Regions from separate parts of the Homo sapiens genome. Here region 2 is reported to be linked to region 1. The links are microRNA targets in miRTarBase. Many come from high-throughput screens and were not tested one by one. Region 1 holds a microRNA gene; the other region holds the end of a gene's coding sequence.
What was found. The annotated mature microRNA hsa-miR-5003-3p reads UACUUUUCUAGGUUGUUGGGG and lies in region 1 at 1,089-1,109, opposite strand. An mRNA with a match to its seed (bases 2 to 7 or 8) in the 3' UTR can be bound and repressed. Matches are read on the target gene's strand: a 7mer-m8 pairs with bases 2 to 8, a 7mer-A1 pairs with bases 2 to 7 and ends in A, and an 8mer does both.

Region 2: miRTarBase lists ZBTB38 as a target of hsa-miR-5003-3p. Seed matches in the 3' UTR shown: 7mer-m8 at 305-311.

What each region holds. Positions count from the first base shown.
Region 1 is chr5:172,659,920-172,663,330 of GRCh38, reverse strand. MIR5003 (microRNA 5003) reads right to left here and starts at 1,166; the gene lies at 1,068-1,166. The region is part of intron 1 of NEURL1B (neuralized E3 ubiquitin protein ligase 1B); the gene reads right to left. RefSeq lists an enhancer at 3,137-3,226.
Region 2 is chr3:141,445,528-141,448,938 of GRCh38, reverse strand. It overlaps ZBTB38 (zinc finger and BTB domain containing 38), which reads right to left. Exons shown (of 6, transcript NM_001376113.1): 6 at 1-3,411. The coding sequence ends at 2,963. It overlaps LOC124906291 (a long non-coding RNA gene), which reads left to right. Exons shown (of 2, transcript XR_007096120.1): 2 at 1-300. Among named protein-coding and RNA genes, the nearest start is that of RASA2, 40 kb to the left of the region's middle.

The DNA.
Region 1 (3,411 bases):
CAGGCTGGTTTCGAACTCCTGACCTTGTGATCCACCTGCCTCAGCCTCCCAAAGTGCTGGGATTGCAGGCGTGAGCCACTGCACCTGGTCAATCCCATGGCTTTTTAAGTTTTTTCTTGAGGCAGAGTCTTGCTCTGTCTCCCAGGCTGAGTACAGTGGCATGATCACAGCTCACTGCAGCCTCAAACTCCCGGGCTCAAGTGATTCTCCCACCTCAGCCTCCCAAGTAGCTAGGACGACAGGTGTGTGCCACCACACCCGGCTATTATTATTATTTGTAGAGTCAGGGTTGCTGGGGCTGGTCTCGAACTCCTGGGCTCAAGCAATCCACCCACCTCAGCTTCCCAAAGTACTGGGATTACAGGCATGAGCCACCATGCCCAGCCTAACCCCCATGGTTAATCACAGGCTGCTCCAGCCCCACCAAGACTAGAGGGCAGTGTCTTTCCAGCAGTTAGTCAAGGAAACAGTGCCCAGACTCGAAATGCATGGCAGAGATTTGGAGGGTGGGTGATGAGTGTCTGTGGGTGGTTAGGGAGGAGGGAACTCTGGCTGTCAGGGTCACCACTGCCCAGCCTTGGCAAGTCTTTCTGGAAGGCCGGTCAACATAAGAACTGCTTCCTGGGTGGCTCTGAGATTTACTTCATGGGCTCTGGATGAAAGCCTGTGCTTTGCTACTGATTTGTCTGAGAGCCTTGAGCAAGTCACTGTACCTCCCAGAACTGCAGTTTTGTCATGTCTAAATGGCACGTGACCTTAGACCCCTGTCTCAGGCTGCTGGCAGGGGCAATGAGAGCATAGAAAAATCCCGGCAGAAGTCCTGGCACATAGTAGATGTTAAATAAACAGCTATTCCCTTCCCTTCCCCATGGGAAATAACAAGTCCAACCACTGGGTAAGCCCCTCACCTCCATCTCTTTCATGCTTTTTATTTCTACATCACAGTTTGAGAGGTGGTTAAAAAGAGCACAGGCTTGGAGTCAGACCTGGGTTTAAATTCTGGTTTTGCTTATTTATTAGCTGTGTGATCTTGCGGTCCGTGTGATCTTGAGGTCCGTACTTAACTTCTCTGTTCCCCCTGCCCCAGCCCCCAACAACCTAGAAAAGTAGGAAAAATCATCTCTACCCTGCAAGGTTGTTGTGAGGATGACACAAAGCAAACTCATCAGACACACAGTGTGTGGCATGTAGTAGGTGCTCATTAAACACTTGATCTCCTCCTTTAACCACCTTATTTAGTTCCTTTGACTAGGAAAGGTTTATTCCTGGGTCAGAGATACCTACCTGTGGCAGCTGGGAAAATACGTTCTGAAACATTTTTCTCCCGTGTAGGGCTCATAACCTTGGCCAGCAGAGGCCTCTTGAAAACCCTGGGGTTGCTTCCCCTTGGTGTCCAAGGACAGAAGCCTATTTTTAAACTATGCCAGCAGGCGTCCTAAATGCGCCTTGTGCCATCCCCTGAATGGTCCCCACTCATCTCTCCAGCCTAGCCCTTCCTTTGATCTAAAAAGAGCCCAAGGAAATGGCAGTTACCGTCAGGAGGATGGCAGGAAGCAACAGCTCCCGATACTCTGGCCCCGAGACGCCGGCTTCCAGCCTGCTGGAGTTCCGCAGATGGCATGCTGGCTGAGGTTTTCAGCAGATTCCTCTCCACCAGGAAAGGGAATTGCCAAATGGGAGAATCGTCTATTCTGCCTCTTCCTTTGAACATGAGGATTACACTGGAGTTTCACTGGGCCTCTGCTATGTAGTGGGTACATGTCTTGGTTTATTGGGTTTAATCTTCAGGAAAACTCTGCAGAGTGGGTTTTACCACCTTGATTTCCCAGATGAGGAAACTGAGGGTCTGAGAGGACCAGGCTCATGCCCTTTCTTCCACCCCACCCCTTCTTCAAGGCAGCTGCCATAACTTTTGGGTTGGCGGGGCGTGGGGAATGGTTCATGGACCTTGTTAGAAGCAATAAAATCTATAGAGGCTTCCCCGCCAGAAACATACCCAGACTCCATGCACAATCTGATATTCAACTTCAGGGTTTCCCCCCAGAAACATACCCAGACTCCATGCACAATCTGATATTCAACTTCAGGGGCTTCCTGGACCTGGACCTTTATAACATGCGTCCTTGGACTGTAGACCTTGAGTGAGAAATCTCTGGTTCAAATGACATTTGCCCCAGTCCAAAATGTAAACCAGCACTGTTGGCAGTAGGAAGCAACATGGTGCTCATGTGTGTTGGGGTGAGGGGGGCAGGCTGTGCTCTAGAGAGAGGAAAAGGCAAGGCTGGTATTTAGCAAGGCTTCCCGCCATATCCAGAGGGGCCAAGATATCAGTCACCTTTGCCAACAAAGTTCCATTTTCCATTGGTGGGTTTAAAAGTGGGCTGGAAAAAAACATAACCAGGCTGGGCACGGTGGCTCACGCCTGTAATCTCGGCACTTTGTAAGGCCGAGGTGGACAGATCACCTGAGGTCAGGAGTTCGAGACCAACATGGTGAAACCCTGCCTTTGCTAAAAATACAAACATTAGTCGGGTGTAGTGGCGGGCATCTGTAATCCCAGCTACTTGGAGGCTGAGGCAGGAGAATCACTTGAACCCAGGAGGCGGAGGTTGCAGTGTGCTGAGATCGCACCACTGCACTCCAGCCTGGGCGACAGAGGGAGACTACATCTCAAAAAAAATAAAGAGAAAAGAAAAAACATAACCAACCCTTCCTCACCTCTGCCAAATGGGGCAGTGACAGGCACTCAGGAGACAGACACCAGCTTACTGGACTTTGTTCCCTTTTTCAGAGGCCTGGTTGGCCAGCATCCCCAAGGGAAAAGGGCCAGCCCGCGCTGGTAACTGCCACTCTGCTCCCTTTGCTTTGCAAACAAAACCCCGTCAACAGCTGCAAGGACATCCCAGAGAGGCCAGAGGTCGCAATGCTGCTTGTGGGGAGAAAAGCTCACTCCATCCAGGCCTAAGTGGCAGACCTCTCAGCTTGAGTGGGCTCTGATGCGAGAGTTCCCAGGGGGTGAGGTCATCCCGACGCCCCCTCAAAGCATGCTCAGCCAGGGCTGGGATTCCCAAGCTGACTCCGACCCTCTGCCGGGCCCCCTGACTGTGGTCTCTTCTTGATAAAGGGACCCAGGAAACTCCAACTTCAGAGGCGCCGGCTCCCAGGGCTAGGGCCCCACTGCAGTGAGAGGTGGGGGGAATGTGCCCTCATTCCTTCTCGAGTACATCACTTCCTCCTTCATCTGACATTTACAGAGCATCTGCTCTGGGCCAGGGCCCGCGCTGGCTGCCGGGTACATGCACTGACAAGTCACACACTGTCCCCGCCCCCTCGAGCTGAGACCAGCTGCAAGGATGGACATAAGCAGACCCCATGACTGCACAGGGTGGTGGCCAGGGAGGGCTGGGGCAG
Region 2 (3,411 bases), not on the chromosome of region 1:
AAGATCAGGCCTATCCAAAACACTCAATCATCAGAAGACTTCAATCTCTTTTATTCTGCTTTTTTCCTAATGTCATAATCCATTTGACTCCTAAGCATGTAAGTAGGTACCACGGAATGTAAACAAGTAAGGAAACAGAAATAAACTGAATAATACGTGGAAACAAAGCTGTGACTCACACAGATGAAATAGCTGCACAAAAGAAATAACATGAAAACATTTAAAAAGAGACTTAATGTAGGAATAAGCTATTTTAATCAAGCAAAAACAAATTTATATCCATTATTTCTAAAAATAAAATTAGACTTTTCCAATCCTTAACATCTGCATTTAATAATATCTTCTAACCAAAATACAGATGCTAAAACAGCAAGTTACATTATATCTTGTACAGCATACAGTATGTTCACTGTTTACACTTACTTTAATTCTAGTTGGTCATGTACTCAATGCATACTTAAACATCACTCAATAAAATTTTCACAATTAACAAAAAAATGTGACAAGGCTGTCTTAAAACGGCTCTGCTATAAATTGTATAGAATATACAGAATTACAAAGTCAAGTATTTTTTTATCAAAATATACACCCCTCCCTGAAACTAACACAAGCTATCAACATTTTAAATGAATACAATTATAGAAAATATTTGCAAAATTATTTTTTCATGTATAAATATTCTGCCATATTTACTTTGGTCTAGAATTATCAGCATACAAGTCCACTTAAAAAATATCCACATATAAGGGCTGGGAGAGAGACATCACTACAGGTAATTTTATATTTGGGGTTAACTCAAATCAAAATGACTAGAATATACAGTAAATGTCTTTGATTAATATTATTAACTGATAAAACAAATTAGTGGATCATAGGATTGCTTATTCAATATTCTAATTATCAATTCAAAAATGATTTTCGTAAGCCCTTTGTGACTATCTCTTTAATAAAACCCAAATGAATAGTGTAGGGTGTACATATATACAATGTATAAAATAAAGTTGAATTTGCTTGCATTTTCCCATTTTTCTCTACTTATATAATACTGTATGTAAGTGAAAGTAGATGAACAAAAGATAAATGCAGATACAATAGTGGGGTTACTTAACAGCAAGGTACTACAGTATTAAAAGGTCAACTTTAATCATGTCCTTTCCTGGGCGTTTAAATGCTTTCTTACCCACCCAAATCCATACTAAGTCTTCTTCATGGAGACATCACACTTGTAGACAGAAACCGGAGTCCTTTGAGCTACTTCTTCACAATGATAACCTTCCAATCTTCGATAACCTTGGGTTTCCATCTGTCAAATCCAATGAACATGAATGACTGCAGGTCACGCTGAAACTGCATTCCGGATTCTGTTCACACTGGTGATCAAAGGGTAGAAATGTTTTCTCTCTCCCTTCTATTCTGGCAGTTTGAAAAAGAATCATGAGTTCCGGCTTTCCAGGAACCTAGTCCACATGATAGAATATGCTGTAGGGCAATTAGATTTGAGGGTAGTGTTGATGGTGTGGGTCAAAGAACATAAAAAAAAAACTTCAGTGGGTTTTTAGCAAGGGGTCTAGATGTCTGCAAATATGAAGACAGAGCATCTGGCTTTGTAGATATATTTCTGAGTCTCATAAGTAAAGGATAGAACCATGTCACTCCACATCCTACCTTCCCACCCCCTAAAAACAAAGCTACTGTTTTAGGCAAGGAAGGCCATCACTTCTTCTTGCCCACTCAAGTCATTAATGGGTGGGGTGGAGGGTGGGGGTTCCTTTGTCCTTTTGCTTTATACTAGTCTGTACTTGTGGGCTGCATAATCTCCAACAAGGCTAGTAATTGTAGGGATTAGGCAGTCACTTTCAAGTGCCTGGGAATTCACTACTGCAGTGTACCTTGCACTAAATCTCTTGGACAGTCCTTCAGTGGAATGGGAGATGGCAGGTTCCACTTGAGCCCTTAAGTCTGTCTGGAATAGACCCCCACATCCATGGCCTTGTGGTGGTTGGAAGACTGCAGAGAGTTTCAGAACAATGTGACCCTCTTTCATTCTCTGAGATGAGGCCATTGCAAAGTAATATGCAGCACAGGTAATCACAGGTAAATTCTGGGAGGGTGTTCCCCCATAGATAAGGCATGACCTATGTTTTCTGTGAATTGAGTAGACCAGTTCTAAGAACAGCTCAGCCATAACTTCAAGGGAACAGCATTCCATCTAAAAGCATTCACATGCTCTTAAATCATATTCAAAATGCTTTCTATTGATTTTTACATCAGTCCTCATTATTTGCAGATCTATTGCTCCTCATAATTCTCTACAGGGGATATGGACAGTTAAAAGTTATAGTGATTTATATATGTATTTTACAAGGTTTGTGTTGCAGAAAAGTAGTTCTACATAATGTATGAATGTCCTACTTTAGGTTACTCATTATGCACATAATTTCAGTTATATTGTTTAAGTATTTCATGTGTATCCATTAATTTAAACAAATTTTAATAGTGCAGAAGCCAGATGGGAATAAAGACCGTCACACAGCTTATTACCACGTAACATATTTACGAAGATGCCATCTTCAGGATATCTGACCCTTATTTTCTCCAGTGACTAAAGACAGTTCAGCAGCCAGTTCTTATTAGCAATTATTAGAAAGTTTTAAACTAGGCTAAAATTAAACTCCTTTTTTCACTGGTAGAAATACCACAGCTAAGAATTTTATTAACTTTCACAAGAAACTTGGGATATTGGAGGAGTCAGCTATTTTGTTTTTGTGCACTTTGCATAAAGTTAATGCTAAAACCCAAAGTAGATATTAGGATCCTTTTTCTGGAATTTTCACAAATGAGTTTTTTTTTTTTTTAATTTCACTCCTTCATGACTGTCACATGGACAAAATGAAACTAAACTTAAATCATAACTAAAAAAACCACCAACTATATTTTTGAAGATTTTTCTAATTCTTGCCACTCAAAGGACAACATTTTCCACACCGGTTTGTATGTTATCCTTTTGGTCATTGTCTTCTGAACCAATGAAATGTTGATTCTCCAAGGGATTTGAGTTTTCGTGGCACACGTCACCTATTTTCTCCTGCTGACTTGGGCTTTTGAATAAGTGTTTCTTTTGGTGCATTCCAAGGGCAGCAGCTGTTTTGCAAATTTTGGGGCACTGGAAGCAGGCATAGCCCTTCCCATTATGCTCCCGAATATGCCTCTGCTCGTGATTCCTTTTGGTGGAGAGATACAAAAATCTCTGAAAGCAGAACTGACAGTGGTAACGCTTTTCTCCAGTATGGATTCTTTCATGGATTTTGAGGGTCTCATTCAAGGTGAATGCCTTGTTGCAATACTGACAGACGAACTCCTTCAAGCCCAGGTGGATGCGTTCATGTTTCTGTAAGTTTCCTTGCACCGAAA